Linked DNA regions of Homo sapiens: region 2 is linked to region 1. The links come from fine-mapping of genetic effects on gene expression. A gene starts in region 1. The other region holds a variant in brackets. All regions are shown on one strand. Distances are between the middles of the regions.

Region 1 (9,089 bases):
ATCTTAGAACTGAGAAATCTCACAGCCGTGTGTCCGCAGCCACTGTGCCTGTCTGGCTTACTTCTATACAGTCACAACGTCCAGGCGGCACTCATATGTATTTAGGAGACTGACAAACCCACAATCTCCTGGGCAGGTGCCTCCCTCCTCTTACGCCTCAAAGGTGCAATGGTCATAGGTAAGCACTAGCACAGCACCCCAGACTAGGGCACAAGGACACAGCCCCCATGCCAGAGTTATACCTGGTACAATGTGCTCAGGGGGTCACGCGGCCAGGACAGGCACTCCCAAGCAGGTACTCCTTCTCAACAGCCCTCACCTCCTGCCTGATGGGATCTAAGATCAGTACCTTTTCCTTTGCCTAAGACAAGAATTGCCTCCTGGGACAGCACCATCATCCTCCAGGAAGGTCTGAACCATCCCCATGCCCCTCTGGTCAGTACAGGGCTCTGTGGTGGCGTGGGTGAGGGCTGCTAGGATCTCAGCGGGCCAGGCCAGGCTGCAGCTGGCAGGGGTGGGGTGAAGGATTGTGACTGAGGGGTCTCTGTGGTACCCTGAGCTGGAGACATCCTTAGGGCAGAAATGGGGACATAGGGACCTCCTCAGCCCCAATGGGGACCAGGGGTGTCGTGCAGCCCCGTCCTTCCTTAGTCCCCTCTGTGAGCTGCTCAGCTCTCTCTGCAGGCTCTTTGTGATTGCAGCTGCTTCCCCGAGGCCCAGCCCTGGTGCTGACGTGCCCTCTGGGGAGAGCTGTGGCTCCCAGGCTCATGGATTTGTTTGATCTTCTAGCATTGGGCAGGGGGGAGTCTGGCCCTTGATCTGAGCCTAGAGTCTTTGCCCCTGCAAGAGAGACCTACTCTAACAGAGAGACCCTTTAAAGTAGGGAGTGGACAGAAGAAGAGAGGCTTCCATCCTCCTGGGAAGCTCAGGATCAGAAGCCAGCCACCCCCAGACCTTAGGTTTTCCTACTTGCCTGCCCTGCTCTGTGTGTGGTGTGAGGCAGTGAGTGAGGGCTTTAGAAGGATCCCTTTTTGAGATGCCAGGCGTAAGAACAATGGTTTCAACTTGTTTCTGAAAAAGCAAATCAGGAAGAAAATTTCCTCGTGCATTAGCAGAGCAATTTCTGCTTGTCCCCCAACTCTGCTGCAAGGAGGCTCCCCCCAGTTCCTAGACAGCTTCCTCCAGGGTGGCTCAGAGCTTAAGCCTGGTGGGGGTGAGGTCCAACCTGCTCCTCCTCTCAAGCTAGTTTCCTTTGGATTTGGGGTCCAGATTAACTTCACCTCTTGGGCAGCACTGCAGGAAGGCTGCCCTCCAGCCAGGCACAGGGTGGGAGAACCCCTTGGTCAGGGTGTTCAGGGTGGCAGGCACTGAGAAGATGTGGGCTTAGGCTGGAGGAAGCCCAGCAGGTTTGACTAGATGGGTGTGTGTGAGGGGCTGGGGTTGACTTCCCCACCTACGTAGTGAACTGAATGTCTCATTAGGTAAAAAGGACACTGAGATGCGTTTGGGCCTGAGTGTGTCCTGGGATGGGAGGTGTTCAGGTTTTGGATGAGAATATCACACTCCTTGCTTTTGTTTGCATTCTCTTTGGTAAACAAAGAAACATGGGCTAATCTTGTAGCAAGGAATCATCAAACTAAGAAAGGACTTACTCTAGGATGGTTACCGTCAGGATACGGAGCCCACAGAAACTCCCATAAATGTTCCAGGTTAGCAACAGCCTCTGGGTGGTTTGTTTAGATTGGGGTTGTAGTCCTGAAGGATGAGGGGGTGGCCAGCATGCATGAGGGGATGAAAAGGATGTCTGCCTTCTTATGGATTCCTGAGTCACATCCACCTTTTACCATTTGAAAGAGGATTACTAGAAGTTGGAAGAAATTTACAGGGTCAGCCAGCCCAACCTTTGCCTCTAGGCAGGACTCTCTAACCTTGGACCAGACCCCAGTTCTCCACACCATCCTTAGAGTCATCTGAAAGGAGACTGCCCCACCTCCTCATGGCTCACTCTTCTAGCCAGGAAGTGTCTCCTGCAGTCTAACTTAAGTCCCTCTGGCTTCCCTGGCATATTCTTTGCTCTGGTTCTTCCTCCCCTGCATATCAATCACCTCTTCTCCAACCCCCTGGTTCTGCCCTAGGAATCCCTCCAAAAATACAAATACCACCCACACTCAGGCTTAGAGATTGTCTTTGAAATACGCTTTCTCACCAACGTTTGGCTCAAGGAGGTTTCTGAAGAGGGCACCATGCATCCTCCAAACCACCCCAAATGCGTTGCTTCCCTGGTGACTTTAGAGGCAGAAAGGATGCCTTGGGGTACACCTGTCTATGTACATGCTCCTAAGGAGTAAGTTTGGTCAGCCAGAGACGAGATGTGCAATCACCCCGTTAAGCACAATTCCTCGGAGGCCCATCCCACATGTGTCTCTATTTGAACAACTGCTGGCAGAGAAGGTGCTGGAATGGAGTTGCATAAGGAGTGAAATCTGGCAGGGGAAATGGTGGCGGCGGGAGGCTGAGGGCTGAAGCCGGTGGAGTACACGCGATGAGAGAAGGGAGTGCGAGGAAAGAAGGAGTAGAGGAAGGGAGGAGAGTAAGAGAGAAAGAGCCGGGAATGAGAGCAGACTCCTGGAGTCTGAGGCACTCATCTGCATAAGGAGTGTGCCTCTGCTTCCCTCACCGCTCATGGTGTGAGCACAGTGGTCTCTGCACCTGTGAGGCAGGTGGACCTTGGGTGACTTTGACATCATCAGGTCAGGGGCCCTTTCCTGTCTGTCTCACCTCCTGCCTCCCTCTTATTCGCTGAGGACTTCCACGGGAGATTAGGAAGGACTCTGACCTTGTGGCAAAAGCCCTGTCCATGGTTCTGCAGCTTGGCTAGAAAGGGGTTAACTGGTGGGCACCCTGGGGAGGGGCTTGGATGCTGCTGTCTTTAAGGGGAGAGCTCCCTTCTCCCAAGGCCAGGAGTGAGGGCACCTGTTGTGACCTCCAGGCCATCTCCCTGTCCAGGTGCGATCACAGCAGCCTCTCCCACAGGTGGCCCACCTTTTGCTGCACTCGATCTCCAGTGGCTCATCCGGCCCCTCTGAGTGGGACCAGGAGGTAGAGAGACTCGGAGGCTAAGTGAGCTGAGGCGTCTTTGGCCAGACGGTTGGGAGAGGAGGCCGAAACTGTTGCCCAGACGAGACCAGAACATCACCTGTGCACTGGGTTTCTTGGGCTGTTCCTCCTCCCAGCTCCTTCTGAGCAGAGGGAAAAGATGCTGAAACCCACCTTTCTCCAGGGCTGGGGCCATGGCATGCACAACCCCACTCCCTCCTGGCCTCACTGGACCCCCCCCCCCAGGACACAGGCTCAACCCCCAGGGGTCTGGGGCTAGAGGGTGCCCGTCTCCATCCCCAAGTAGCAGCAGGATTCTCCCCTTCCATAGGCACTGCCTTCTCCATGCCCCGCTGCTTCCCAGACCTGAGAGACCCTCTTGGAGAAGGTGACAGGATTCAGCTCTGGACACTCACTGGCTGGGGCTGCCCCCCACCTCCAGCCCATTATGTAAGCCCCACGGTGCTGGGCAGAAGGATTGCCCTCTCTTTCCAGAACTCCCCAGCTCTGCCCCTTCCCTTCCCCATACCATTCTGGCCCCAGCCCCTTTCCTTACTGGAAAGCCAAACTTTGTGCAAATTCTTCCCTCCCACCAGTGAGGATGGGGGGGAGGGATTTGAGGAGAAGCTAAGGTTGGGAGGGGGAAGGGAAGGAAAGGAATTTCAGCCCGGTAGCCCCAGCCTCTCGCCCTTTGGGATGTGACTGGCCTCAGGACTCTCCTCCCCGAGTCCCAGTTCCTGGACAGGCCCTTGCCCAAACTTGTGCTCCACTCTCCCCTCTCTCTTCCACAGCCCCCCTCTCCATCCAGCTGAAGCAAGACTTTGCAAAGAGGTCACCCTGCAGAGGTAGACCCTGGGTGACCTCAAAACTGGGGACTCCGGCTCAATTCCATGCAGGGACTTCTGGGGCAGGCCAGGGCCCAGGGCCTGGCTGTATGGACTGGTCCTGTCCTGGACCGGGTGCCCAGGGCCGGCCCAGGAGAAACTGCCCTCTCCACAGGCAGCTGCCACTGCCCGCTGGCCAACTGGAATTCCTGGACACACTCCTGGGGTCCAGCTTTTCGGCCAGGCTCGGCCTGAGAGAGCCCTGCGGGATGCCGCCCACGTAGACAGGGCGGAGGGGAGCCCCAGCACCCACCCTGGGGCTGAGGGGAGAAGTCAGAACGGCCCCAGCCTGCCAGTGTTCCTGTCCCTGTTCCCTCCCAAGTTACAAGGGGGATATTTACAGGAACTGAGCCGGGAGCCCCGGCCCATAACAGCACGCAGGGAAGTCCCTGGGTTGGAGGAGACAAAAGCGGTTGGCACCTACCTGGGGCGAGAGAAGGGTGTTGGCTGGGGCAGGTGGATGCTGCCCGAGTCGGTGAGCCGGGGCCGGCCGGGCCGCCAGCCCCTGTCTGGGCCGCTGTCCTTTGGGCCCTGGCGGCCTCAGCCGCTCGCTGTCCGGGTGCGGCGGCGGCCGCGGCGGCGGTGGCGGGTGAGGGCGCGTGTGTGTGAGCGCGCCCGGAGCCACTGCAGCATCTCTGCATCAAGATGTGCTCCTCCCTCTCCCAGGCTCCGCTCACTGGCTGGCTCTGGTCCTCAGCCAACGCTCGGGGGCCCTGGAGATGGCTTCCTTCTGCCCCCCTCCCACCCCACTTCCGTCCCCACCCTCCTGGCTTTACCTCATTTGCTGTCATTTAAGGACCAGGGAGCGAGCCCAGCGCGCGTCTTCCATAATGCATGGGCCGCTCATGGACAGGCCGCGGGGCGCTGTCTGGCCCGCCTGCCCTCCCGATCCTGCCCAGCCCCACTTCTAGTCCCCCTGCCCAGGGCTGAAGGGGCAGGAGAGGGGCGGGGTGAAGAGGGAAAAGAAAGTGGCTCTTACTCCTCAAACCCTGGAGACCCATGGAGCCAAAACTCCTGGTTTCCCCAGAAATCCCCTATCCGAGGAAGAGATCCAAATCAGAAATCCCAGCTTGCTGTGTGGGGCAAGTGGCAGGGAGGGGCTGTCTCTGTTGCCCGGTCCACCCCATGTTCCTCTTTATTGTTTCCCTTGTTCAAAAGTAGTTTGAGCTTTTTGTCAAAATATCTAAATATTAGAGGACATTTAAAAATACATAGTGAAAGTCCCTCAACCACTACTCTTAATAAATCTAAGTACATGCCCCCAGGTTTATTATTTTCGTGTATACAATTACATGGGTTAGTAGGGTTATTTCACACAAATGTGATTACATAAAACAGTAGGATTGGCCAAAGACTTTTAACTGTGTAACTGATCTTGGACACTTTTACGCATCAGTACGTTTGGATCCAATCCCATTTTTAAGCAACCAGCAGTGTGATGTCATGAAAAGCTCCCTGGATTAGGGGTCTGGGTGTCTGAAGCATACTCTGGGCTCCACAACCGACTGGCTGTGTGTGCTTGGCTAGGTGCCCTGCCCTCTCTGAGCCTCGCTGGTACCTGAAGGGATTAAAGATGGACACAGTCCTGCCAGCTCTGAGATTCTAAGTGCTCACCCTTGTCAGCGATGCCTTTCTCCTGCCCTGCTCCGGTCACGTGGGGGAGTGCCCAGGAAGGCTGTGGCCCGGAGGCGGAGGGACCAGCCATCTGCGGCACCAGTCGGCCCTGTCAGGCTGTCACTGTTGTCTCACCCCCCTCTGATCTGCCTGCTGTCCAGCTTGCACAGGCAAGACCGGTGAGCAGTCCAGATGCTGCAACAGCTGGCAGGGCCAGGCCAGCCTCCCAGTTTTAAATGGCTATACCTGTCAAGCCTGGATCATGGCTCCATGTCTCCCTGAGTGGAGGAGGTCCTGGGGACCTGGGCCAGAATGAGAGGGTCTGGAAAAGGAGAAGGAGTCGGGGAGGTTCTGCTGCTCAGCCTCCAAGGCTGGAATGTCTGCCCAGGTCCCACATGCGCTCCCCTCCTTTCCTTCTGAGCCCCTCCAAAGGGCTTGCCCAACTTGAGAGATAGTCTTCTTTGTTCCTGATGGGGAGGACTTGGATTTTGCTAATGATGTTTCTTAAATAATGTTGAATGCTGTTATATAGACAGACACATCAACCCCTTGCCAGGATATCTTTCCCTTCCTTCCCCTGCCCACACTGTCCTTGCCTATCTGTATGTCTGAGGGCTGGCACATTGGCTCTGAGCTCCTGAGGTGAACCTTGCTCTTTGGCACCATTCAAGTCAGCCTGGGCTCCAAAGAGAGGCTCTGCAAGTTCTCTCCTAGCAGAAAACGGCAGGAACAAGTCCTTGCCAAGAAAAGGATGCTATGTCTGCTGCAGGGGGCTGACGGGCCAGGAAATAGGCTGGCCCAGGAACCAACAGTCTGGAAATGCTTGCAAGGATTGCTTTAGACGGAGACAGCTGTCTTTGTGACTCTATTTTAGGACAGCTGCTGCCCTGTGGTGGGAGCTGGGTCTCTGGGGAGGGTCGTTAGCACAGGTGACTTGGGTCTTAAAGACTCTCAGATCTCAATGCAACCAGCATGCTCCATGTGGACTCTGGCAGACACAATAAGTGAAAACAAGAACATTTGCCAAGCCTAGACTTGGATGGGGAGACAGTTCCCAAAGTCTCATCTTCTCACTTGTCTGAAGCTCTCAGTGAAGTCTAGTATGAATGAGTTTGGGGAGATTAGGGGGATCTGCACTCCCAGTCTCTGAGATGCTCCTGTTCCTGAGGAGAGAGTGGGGTGGGCATTTGGGGGTGCAGGCTGAGTTTTGCTTGTGGGGCCCATTAGCTTGATAATAACAGAAATAATATCTGTTTTGAATGCCTCCCACATGCCGGGAGCTGTGCTAAATGCTTTACCTGAATTACTTGCGCAAGAGGTCCATGTTGTTATTATCCTCACTTTTCAGATGTTGCTCAGTAAGAGTAAGGAACTTGCTCAAAAGAAATAGTAAACAAGTGGAACCCTGGGCAACGTGGCGAAACCCCGTCTCAACAAAAAACACACAAAAATTAGCCAGTGTGGCAGTGCACACCTGTAGTCCCAGCTACCTAGGAGGCTGAGGTAGAAAGATCACCTGAGCCTGGGAGGTTAAGCCTGCAGTGAGCTGTGATCGTGCCACTGCACTCCAGCCTAGATGACAGAGTGAGGCCTGGGATCGGCCTCCAGCATCCTGGCTTAGCCACCGTGCCATGGACTCCAGCTACCTACTGTCTGTTCTTTTGAGGTGGGCAAAATAGGGGGCAGAACAGTTTCTTCTTCTTTGGTGACATCCAGAGCCCACAATCTTCAGTGCAGCTGACCATAAGGGCCACCTCTCCTTTCTGTGGCTGATCAATATGACTCCATGTTGTCCAGAGCTGGGACTCCACATCTCAAAGTTGAGTCCCCACAGACTTTCAAACAGGGCAAGAAAGGGCCAGTGAAGATAATCAGGTGGCTAGTCAAATGGCTTATAAATTTGTCCGCAAACATGTGGTGCTCCCTTGGTGGTGGTGGGTGGGGATCAGAAAGCATTTTGAGGGCCACCCAACCCTGCCCAGACCATCTGCTTCTTCCTACTGTAGCCACACAAGATTGATAGCAATGGAATCCAGTGGGTCTCTAACCGATCAAGAAGGGACCTCTAGGCCCCATCCCTGGGGACAAGTGGGGAGGAGATGAGACCCTGCCATGGCCCCAGGATGCTGCAGCTTTGCTGTCTCTTTCCTCACCACTCCCCCGCCTCACCTCTCCTTTCCTGGCCTCTCCCGCCACCAGCATCTTTGCCCAGACCCTTTTCCCAGGAGGCCATGTATTTATGGAGCAGCTCCTCTGCCTGGAATGTAGGGATCCAAGAGCCAGGGGATGCGGTCTTCAAAGTGCCAGTGACCTTTTTGGAAGCAGTGTGACAGTGGTAACAGGACTGTCCATCCACAGCTCTGGGGAAAACTGATATGGCCATAAGGAAAAGCTCTGCAGACAGACCCGTTTGACACCCAGTCCTGCTACTGAGGAGATGTGAGGCCATGGGCAAGCCACATACCTCTTCACCCAGAATATGGGGATGAAGACACATACCTCACTGAGTTGATGTGAGTGTTGAGTTACACGTGAAGTAGCTAGCACAGCAGGTGCTCAATAAATGTCAGTATTTCCCTTTTGGGATTTAGCCTCCCTCATCTGTAAAACAAGGATATGAGGCAGAGCAGTAAGGGCTGCAAGTGGTTGGGGTGGCTCTGGATTTGTAGTCAAGAGAACTGGACTCTGTCCCAGCTCTGTCACTCCTACCTGGATGACTCTGGGCAAGTAACAGAATGACACTTAATCGCCCAGATAATCCATTTCTTCACCAGTAAAATAGGAATGATCCTACTCCTATCTAGGATGGTAGTGAGGATATGTGAATTAAACATAATGGTTTTTAAAAGCACTTTGAATTGCAAAGTGCCATATCAAATACTGATGGCCATTCCCTCAGCTATGCAGTCCAAAAGGTAGGGATTATCTCATCAGTCCGTATTCTCCCAGTCCCCCACCCTCCTGTTTAGCACAGTGCCTGGTGCATGGTGGAGACTCAATAAATATTTGTTGACTGGGTGAATGAATGAAGGAGAGTAGCTATAGTAACCATTCAGAGGATGAGGAGAGAGGGAGGTAGGATGTGGGTGAAGCTTTCAGTGGGGGTGGGTGGGTGCATCTTGAATTGAGCCTGGATGGACAGAGAGGAGGTGGGGAATGTGTTTCTGGCATGGGGGCATGTGGTGTGGCAGGAGCCAAGATGTGGGGCCTGGGAAGGCCATGATTTGTGTAATGCCTGGAGAAGCCAAGTTGACCTAGCAGGGGTGCTGGAAGGAAGATCTCAATGCCCTGTCTGCATTTGCCTTCCTAATTTCATGTGAGGGCCCAGAGGGGTCTGTGGCCTGGAGGGGCCTAATTATTCTCTTTGCCATTTCAACCCAGGGCTCTTGCAGCTCCTTTTTCAGGCTTATAATAGATGATGCTAATGTCATTATTAATATTTAATAGTAATGATGCTAATAATGCCCTGCATTTATGTGGTCTCTCCAAAGAGCT
Region 2 (9,089 bases), 51 kb after region 1:
TCTATTCACATGAGAACATGGGAAGAGGGAGCTAATGGAATAACCCGCACTCAGCAGCACCACCTTCCCAGCCCACAGCAGACAGAGGAGTCCCAGGCAGAGTGAGGCGCATGCTGGGCTTCTTTTCTGCATAAATCTTCATGGGGCACAGAATTGTTCAGATCTGGGCTAACCCTCTCATGACACCCATCTCCCACCCAAAGCTATCCTTGGATGTTGGTCAGCTTGGGAGGGCTAAGCTTATGTATGTGACAACTTTTTCACAGGTCTTCTTTCCTGATATAGAAGGTCATGGAAAGGGCTGCCCTATCCTTACCCGCAGATCTAATATTTGCTAAAGCTGAGAGTATGAGAATGAGGCCAAGCAGAGAGAGACAAAGCCCCCTCTCCTCCTTGCACTGGATCTCCTGTGATCTGACAGCACTCCACTTTCTAGTGTTGACGCTAATGGGGCAGTAGGCAGGGACTTTAAAACACAGGCAGCTAACTCTCACTCCCAAGGAATCCTACCCAGCCTCAAATCTCTCAGGAAAATAATATCCCCGAGAAAGGGGCTAGGGCAGGGAGGGATGCCAGAGAAAGAATTGCCAGAGAGCTTTTTTTAAGGGAGAGTGAAGTGATCCTAAGCCTTCTCAGCCAGAGCCTGCCCAGCAAAAGCCCTTTCATTCCCTTGGGTCTCCAAAATTACAAGTCCCTCTTTGGAGAAGGAGGGAATACTCCTGCTTCCCTGCTAATAAGATCAGAGGTACTACTGTGCCCCGAGGGTGCTGGCCACCGAAGTCACACTGGGCAGCTGACTATGCCCCATACGTTCCAGAGGTTCCTGGGCAGGCTCAAAGCTCACAATGCTATACTCCCCAAACCCCGGTCAACCCACAGACATCAGGGCGGCGTGCGGAGGGGTGAGCGGTGGGGCAACTCTCCCTCTCAGATTCTTTATTTAGGGCTGTGCTCAGTCCAGGATGGCCTCAGGCCTGGAATATAATCTCAGCACTAAAAACACTCAACAAGAGGGAATTCACTTATCCCCACCCACCGACACACATACACACACACACACACACACACACACACACACACACACTGTGCACACATCATACATGGGAAAGCCTGAGAGACCCATGGGGCAAAGGTCAGTTCTCTCCCAGGCCTGCTCCCTGCAGCTCTCATGGCCATAGACACACATGGGCTCTTTCCGCTGCTCTGTGCTGCTGGCACAGACCTGGAGCAATTATTTTGTCTACTTGGGCAGGACTGCTCTGATTTTTTTTATTTTAATTGAGACGGGATCTTGCTCTGTCACCCAGGCTGGAGTGTAGTGGTGTGATCATGGCTTACTGTAGCCTCGACCTCCCAGGCTCAAGCAATCCTCCCACCTCAGCCTCCTGAGTAGCTGGGACTATAGGTCCAGCTACAGGTCCACCATGCTTGGCTAATTTGTGTATTTCTTGTAGAGATGGGGTTTTGTCATGGAACCCAGGCTGGTCTTGAACTCCCAGGCTCAAGCAATTCTCTAGCCTCAGCCTCCCAAAGTGTGCACCTGCCGGAGTTCCTTATCAATAGTATATTTTCTAATAATTTCTGACAAATCAAATGCTTACAAGGTAGCCCTTCTCATGACTATCTAAAAGGCATCATTAGAAAACACTCCCTTTGGAGGAGGTTGCAGTGAGCCGAGATCAAGCCACTGCACTCTAGCCTGGGCGACAGAGCGAGACTCTGCCTCAAGTAAACAAAACAAAACAAAAAAGCAAACACTCCCTTTTAACCTGAATCATCACACCGCGTAGTGCAGGAGCCTGGGCCTCCCTTCCTACAGGTGCAGTGGTGCTACATTTCCCAGGCCCCAGAATCCAAGTCAGTCTTCCCCAAAGCTTTACACTCTCTCATGTGGCCCTCAGACTCGCAGAGACACACACACACTCATACCCCAACAGGGCCATAGCTGGGGGCACACACTTCCCAGGATGTTCCAGTGAGTAGCTGGGGGACAGAGGTGTCAAGAGAGCCCAGGTGACAGCATTTTCCTCACCGGCCCTGCTGGGCAGAGGTAAGGATGAGAGATGGCTCTGAAGATGTTTCTACACTGCATTGTCCCCTCCCCTGATGGCCACTTCTGCCAAGTGTGGCAGAAAGGAAGCATTTTTCTCTGATGATGGCTACCTAGCTGCTTCCTGTCTGGCTCAGGCTTAGTAAGAGGGAGCAAGAGATGAGAGAGAGGAAAGGGGTCACTTTCCGGCAGCCTCCCCGGGGCTCCCACCATTGAAGTTACCATAGAGGATACAACCTCAGCTGGCTAAGGTCACTGCTGGCACATCTCCGACCCACTCATTAGCTGTGTCTATTGTCCCAAGGCAAGACAGGGCCTCCAGAGAGCTAGGGAGGGTGGAGGAAAGAAGAAAAGCCTCCGAGGGAAGGTGCAGAAGAGTCAGGCAGTGAGCTGTCAGGGGGCTAGTACAGGTGGGAACGAGAGGAGGACAAGTGTTCCATGGGGAAAACCTTCCACTGCTCAGGTCTAAGGAGATTCAGATTATTTCATCCCCTGGGGCTGAGGTGGAGGAGAGGATAGAAGAGCAACGAAGCTGAGAAGTAGGGCTTACCAACAGAGCAGCACCAGGCTGGGCAGACACATGACTGGGCTAGGATGTCATTTCCTGCCGCAATAGGAGCTACAGGTTTGGAAGCAATCCTGGCCAGTGCTCAGTGGAGACCATCAGCCTGGCGACCAAGGACAGCGGGCAGAGACTCTCTGTTAGCTAAGGGGGGATCCTGAGTGGGCTTCGGCTGGAAGCACAAGGCCCTTCCTAGATGGCAGCGTCAACCTCACAGGTTTGTGACCTAATGCACACTGGAAGGCACCCTGGCTGCGGCCAAGGGTTTTCCAGGTGGGTTTCAGGGAGCACCATGCATGAGATGGAGAACACTGAGGAGAGATGACATGTGTCATTCATCTTTCTGTCCCAGAACCTGCCACGGAACAGGGCACCTATCAAGAGCCCACCAAACATTTGCAGACCTGAGCTGGGTCAAAGAAGAGAACAGCACTTCCTTACATTCCAAGGTGGAAGGTTTAGTCCAAAAATGTCCACATGGCGTGTTGACTACCCCGGCCAAATCACAGATTGTCAGACAGACGGGCAGCAATCCTAAGAGACTACAGATACAGGTGGATGAGAGGGATTATCTTCACTGGGTGAGAGATGAACAGGGCAGTTTGGGGAAATAGTGCCCAGGTTTGGAGAGGACGAGAGGGAAGACAGCAGTGGGCCGGACGCCAGGCCCACGTCAGAAACATGGAACCCGAGTTTCGTTGCTTGGCACCTGCTCATTGTGCAGAAGGTTCTTACGCATTTAAAGCTGAGAACAGCTGATGTTATCAGCACATCTCATTTCCAAAAAAGTGCAATCTGCCTCCACTGCCATGTCACACGGAAGCTGGAGCCCAGGAAACATTTGATTGAGACCGTGAGCTCATGCTGGATGAGTGTAGATCTTTTCTAAATGGGAAGTAGGAAGTGGGGTGATTGCAAAGATACCTCTCACCCACTCAGTAGAGGGACAGCACAGGCCGGCACAGATGCCCACTGAACAAGACAGACTGCCTGCCACCAGGCCCACCTGCCTTGGGTCCCAGGGTGCCAGAACAGGGGAGGTGGACGGGGAGCTGCTTCCCCATTGAGCTTGCAGCTGATTCGCCTGGTGCCCTCCCTGCGTTTCCTCTTCGTCACGGGAGAGACTTACGTAAACTTCAAGCAGGAAGTCAGGGAGGCCCCCAGTGTGGCAAGGATGGCTCTCACCCTGTTCCCCAGGCCTGGGATCACCTCTCTGCCTCACATCTTCACAGGGGTGTTCAGACCTTGTGGGGAGGCACTGGGGTGGTGGGTGAATGTTGAGGACTGAGGGAGAGAGGGAAGGATGATGGCAGCTCACCATCCACAGATCTGGCCGCAAAACATACACAAACTGAAGGAAGCAGGGTATGCAACAGAAATAGAATCAACCTAGGATGGGGGTGGGGATGAATAAGCAAAGGCGAGGAGGAAATCGAATTGGGCAAGGTGGCATCCCCTTCATAAGCCAACCCTCAGATTCCTGGCCCGGTCCTCAGCCCTCCCTCCACTGCCTGGCATGTAAGGAGGCTCTGCTGAGCACTTGCTTGTAGCCTTTGCTCTGCCAGGGTGAATCCTGTTCTCATTTCCCATCTGATGTAATTCAGGCTCAGAGGAGGGCCTGGAAAGGAACCCTGGGGTCCCCTGCCTCGTTTCTCCAGCCTGGGGACAGGCCAACTGTGATGAAGAGCCCTTTGATGACCCTCAAACCCATGACATGAGGACTGGAGAGGAGTAACTTGATTAGCAGGTCCTAAGCCCAGAGCTGCCCAGCACCTTAGTCCACTGTAGATCTACCTCCCATACCCCGAGAGTGGAGACTGTTCTTAACGATAAAGACTTGGAAAAGCTGGGTTTCTGAAGGGTGAGGAGATAATCAGCCCACGGTGCCTGCTGAGACTCCAGGAACTGGAGCACCTGGCCCTATCCATGGACATGCTTGCTTGTTCTCACTGAGCAGAGCCCGTGGTGGCTGGCAGAGCCGGTGC[C/T]GGGCCCCCATGCAGCATGCGAAGCTGGCATGCACAGCATGTTCACCCTTTCAGGAGATGGCAGCCCCACCAGGAGCCAGCTGTCCCTGCTCCTGCTGCAGCGCGCCTTCTAGGGCCACAGCTGGGGACACTGCTCTGAGCTGTCAAGCCCAGGCAAGGACTCAGGTGGTTAACGGGAAGTAATCTACTCAGTGTCAGAATGAAACTGCAGCTCCAGAGAGCAGGTCAGGGCCGGTGTGTGTGTGACCCCTGCTGAGCCATTCTCCTACTCAGCAGGGGGCAAATAGTTTGGGAAGGGGGGAAAGTGGGCTTGCTCTCCTCTGGTCCCATCCTCCACACACATCCCTCTTGACAGTCTGGCTTCCCAACCACTGAAAGGGTGAGTCTGGAGCATGCTTTCAGCCTGAGCCTCTCCCTCCTTGTCCGCCCTGGCTGGGCTGGGCTCCGCCTGCGCTGCCCCATGCCATGCCCATTACCTCCGCGGCTGGTACGGTACCTGCGGTTGGAGTAGCTTCAGAACACAGCGCCCAAGATGGCCAGACAGAGGGAGAAAGGATGGAAAAGGGAAGAGAAAACAGAGCACAAGTGAGACCACAGGACAAGGAAAGCAGGGAAGGTTCCAGCCCAAACCTTATGCAGACGGCGTGGCCAGGTGCTGGCTGCTGGCCTGAGGATGCCAACTGGCATTCAGGGTTCACGGTCAACTCCACCTGAGTCAGGCATGTTCCTACAGAAACCTTTCCACCTGGGCCTTGGAGACCTTTCTAACACACTGTTTCTACCTCGATTCAAGGACTGGACATCTAAAAGGTGGCTGCAGGGACAGTCCACTCAGAGCATTATGTTCCCAGCTCTGTCCTCAACAGCATGTCCTGCTCTGGCTAGGTTGGCATGACCTTTGAGCAGGCTGGGTGACGCTCCATGATGCCAGGAATTGAGGGGATAAGGAGTAGGTGGTGTGGGAGGACACCAACTCCAGTCAAAAGGATGGTTCCTGTCTTTGGGGGAAGATGCTGAATAGTGGGATGGATAGGAGAGAGGGAGCATGTTCAGCTGCACCCACTCCACACCATCGCAACCTTGGAAGGCGGGAACTTTGAAGGATGGAGCCTGGAGCCCCTCTCCTGGTATTCCGTCACTCCAATTCTTCCCCTCCAGTTGGACTTTATGAAGTTAGAAACCCAAGTTTGGACTGAGAGCCCTTTCTTTTTTCTTTCTTTTTCTTTTTTTTTTTTTTTTGGACTGAGAGCCCTAAGTGAAATTCTTGAATTTTCTGCAAAGCCCTAAGTTAAGAAAAAAGCCTCTATTTGTCCTTTTGTCCCCTGGGGCTGCAGAACATTCTCTGTGGTGGTTACTGGGGCTGGACAATAGGGCTTTGTTATCTGATGTTCTGTATTGGGGTGCACATAGGGAGGGAAGAAGGGGCTCTCTTTATCTATCTATTTGCAGAATTGAGTAATCAAGAAAGTGCATCATGGCCTGGCCTGGCCTGGCCTTTGGTGACAGACACACATCAGCCACTAACCTAAGTCCCCCTGCCCTAATAAACTTCCCGAGTGCCCAGGGGCTTGGGAGAGTGCAGAAGAGCACAGCAGGAGGGAGAGCTGGTTGTGTGACTCACTCCTGGTTTCTGAGACCAGAGAGGGATGCAGAGCGGGCTGTCAGCCTTTCTCTGCTTCTGCCTGGCCCCTCTTCTCCTGCCTCAGCGCTGGTCTACTGGCTAGAGTGGTGGGCTGGGGAAGGATGTGGGCAGCTTGTGAAGCTGCCTGGGATCCCGGGGTGACGCAGCGGGCCTGGTAGCCCCAGAGAAGGCAGCACTGATGCTCTCCTGGAATGCGGGTAGGGGTGGTATTCAGAAGACCCCGTCTGGGCCTGGGCCAGGCCACGGGACCTGACCCTTCTGTGGAAAGCACCAGACACGATGACTTGTCAGCTTCCAGAGTGCCCACTCACATCACCTCTTCTCTGGAGTCTTCCCGTGAAGACTGAATCCCCTTCTCTGCCCAGCCACTGCGCCCCCTCATTTAGACATGCAATTAGATATTCTTATAGATGACTCCCCCTCTAGATGGTGTGAGCTTCTTGTTACCTTTGTATATCCCTTGTGTGTGGCAGTGTCTGGCACCTCACATTGTGGGTACTCAAGAAATGGCTGTTGAATAGACCATTGTATCTCTGGAGACACACGGGGGTCCCCAGCCTTTCCCAGAGGGTGTGCCAGTATTGAGGCTTTTGCAGCCTTGCCTCCTCGAGAGGTCCCAGACTGCACATTCCCCTGATGCCAGTGCGTGTGCGGGTGAGCCTGGAGCCCCCTCTAGTGGAGTCCTCAGGCAGGTGCAGCTCTGGTGGGGCTGAAATGCTGCCAGATGACGCCTGGACCCAGGTGATGAACTCATTTGCTCTTTGTGAAGCTGGCTTGGCAAATGGCTGTTTCCTAACTCCTCCTCCTCTCTGCAGCCTGACAACGCATCCAATTCAGGCTGCAAGGAAGGACCACATTCTCTGCTCTACTCATGATGCCAGTAACAGCGTCATCCTGACGGTTTCCCCTACCTCCTTGAACCCATGTGCCTTCGAAGAAAGAAGGTTGTCCCCAGAGCCCTCATGGGAGCACTCACAATCATATTCCTGCCTCCCTCAAGAGGTGAACACTCACTGTTCTTTGGAGTTCATTATGATTTCTCTCATTTCTCAACTCATGCTCTCTTCCTTATTCCTCTACAAGAAGGAAAGATGATAGATGTCAAGTGACTGAGCAAGTCAGGGCAAGTGGGGACCCAGGTGTGACCACAGTGGTCCAAGGAGAGCTGAGCTCCAGATACAATGCCAGCACCTACCTCTCACACATAAGATGGGTTCTCACCTTCCGAGGGCTTGAGGACTTGCAAGTCTCATTTCCTCTCCATCCCAGGCAGCCAGCTACAGATCTCAGTGTTTCTCTAGGCCTCGGAATTAGCTGGGACCTTTTACCCCAGGGGCTGCTGCCATGCACCTACCTTCATTCGGGGGTGCTGGTGACTCCTCTGTGACGGCTTCCCCAGAGCCCACCTGCGTCCTGGCGCTGAGGGTAAAGCGGTAGCGTGACACGGGGTCCGTTCTTTGCACCGTGAACTTGGTCTGATTGGGAGAGAAGTTTTCCACTATCTGCTTTCCTACTTTGGTCCCGTTAACTGGGGAGAGAGAGGTAAGTGGAATTAAACTTTAGCAACATTTATTGATGGGTTATATAATCTGCAAGCTGGAGGAAGAACACTTTCCTGACTTTGCTGGAAAGGGAAATGATGGCACCTGCCTGGTGATCTTAAAGGCTTGGTTCAAAGGCAGAACACTCGGCAAGAACTCCCTCCGGGCTCTTTGATTACACCCAGGGTTAATCCTTCTTCACTGATCCTGTTGTCTCTAGCTCACTGCAGAGTTATGTGGCTGATTCAGAAAGATTCCGTTTATATTCTTAAGCCCTTTCAACAAGGACAAAACTCTTCACTTTCTTTCTTCCTTTCAAACAGAACTAGGACAACGCCACTAGGCCTTTTGATTCTTAATGCCTCCTTTGTAAAGTGCCTATTCAATGGACCTCAAAGGGTGAAAGGGTCTGGTCCAGAGATCAATTCAGAACAGCATACAAGCACAGAGTTGGCTATTAAAATTGCTAACAACACAACATTTGGCTCTTTGAGTTTCCTAACGAGGTACGTTACCTACTTTTGAAGGCCTAAAGTGTTTCAAATGTAATGGCACTCCTGTCCCTGCATGGTGATGCTGAGCTCTTGAGGTGGGGTCTTTCCAACCCAGGCTCCTGATTCGGGTCACCCCACAGTCACCGGGCAGCTCTACATGCAGCTGCCTTATCATAAATGACATCTTGTCAAGGGGTGTCCTGACTGTGGACTCCTGTGAGTATACTATCTACCCCATCAGGTGGAAGCTCCAGAGCTTGAGGAACTCTCTCTCCTAGACTCTGTACGTGTTGGAGACTACAAAAGATCCCTAAAGGCATGGCTGTCTGCTTCATTAGACTGGAGGTCCCTTTGTCTCATCAGTGAGACTAGAAGCTCCCTGCAGGCAGAACTATGAAAGGAGAGCAGGGATTGAGTCCCATCTGCCTCCCCTAATCCTATTGGGAACTGTTTCGTTGGCCCCTCCATCCCTCCACAATGCCATCTGCACCCACAGGCTTTCTACCTTGAGTCCTTAGGAAAAGTGGTGAGAATGGGGTTTCTGGTTCCCAGATTATCTAAGAGAAAGGGAAGGGCAGAACGTACAGGCCACATATTTGAGAGTGTATCCAATCATGATCCCATTTGGATGCTCAGGATGATCCCATTCCAGGTTGATTGTCTCCAGGTTGGGCTGCCGGACTCGGAAACGCCTAGGGGCACTGGGTACTTGGGGAAGGAGGAGAGAGCAGGGGAGATGAGGGGGAGGGGGCAGGGAGGATGAGGAAAACACAAAAAACAAAGCACAAGTATGAAGGCATTGACCTCTGGACAAC

Alleles and levels. Positions count from the first base shown, and alleles are read on the strand shown. Sizes are in standard deviations (SD) of each study's normalised expression.
For the expression in cerebellar hemisphere of the gene that starts at base 4,587 in region 1, allele T in region 2 goes with a higher level than allele C (small effect, 0.36 SD a copy in GTEx).

The links. PIP is the estimated chance that this variant, and not a neighbour inherited with it, causes the effect.
Region 2: its variant is fine-mapped to the expression of CNTN2 in cerebellar hemisphere (GTEx, PIP above 0.99).

What each region holds. Positions count from the first base shown.
Region 1 is chr1:205,038,710-205,047,798 of GRCh38, reverse strand. It overlaps CNTN2 (contactin 2), which reads right to left and starts at 4,587. Exons shown (of 23, transcript NM_005076.5): 1 at 4,405-4,587. RefSeq lists enhancers at 86-590, 4,657-4,801, 4,749-4,893 and cis regulatory regions at 4,729, 4,821.
Region 2 is chr1:204,987,311-204,996,399 of GRCh38, reverse strand. NFASC (neurofascin) reads right to left here. Exons shown (of 30, transcript NM_001005388.3): 22 at 8,860-8,982; 23 at 7,594-7,767; 24 at 5,094-5,108. Among named protein-coding and RNA genes, the nearest start is that of CNTN2, 51 kb to the left of the region's middle. RefSeq lists an enhancer at 6,676-6,765. The variant C/T (reference allele first, on the strand shown) is at 4,598.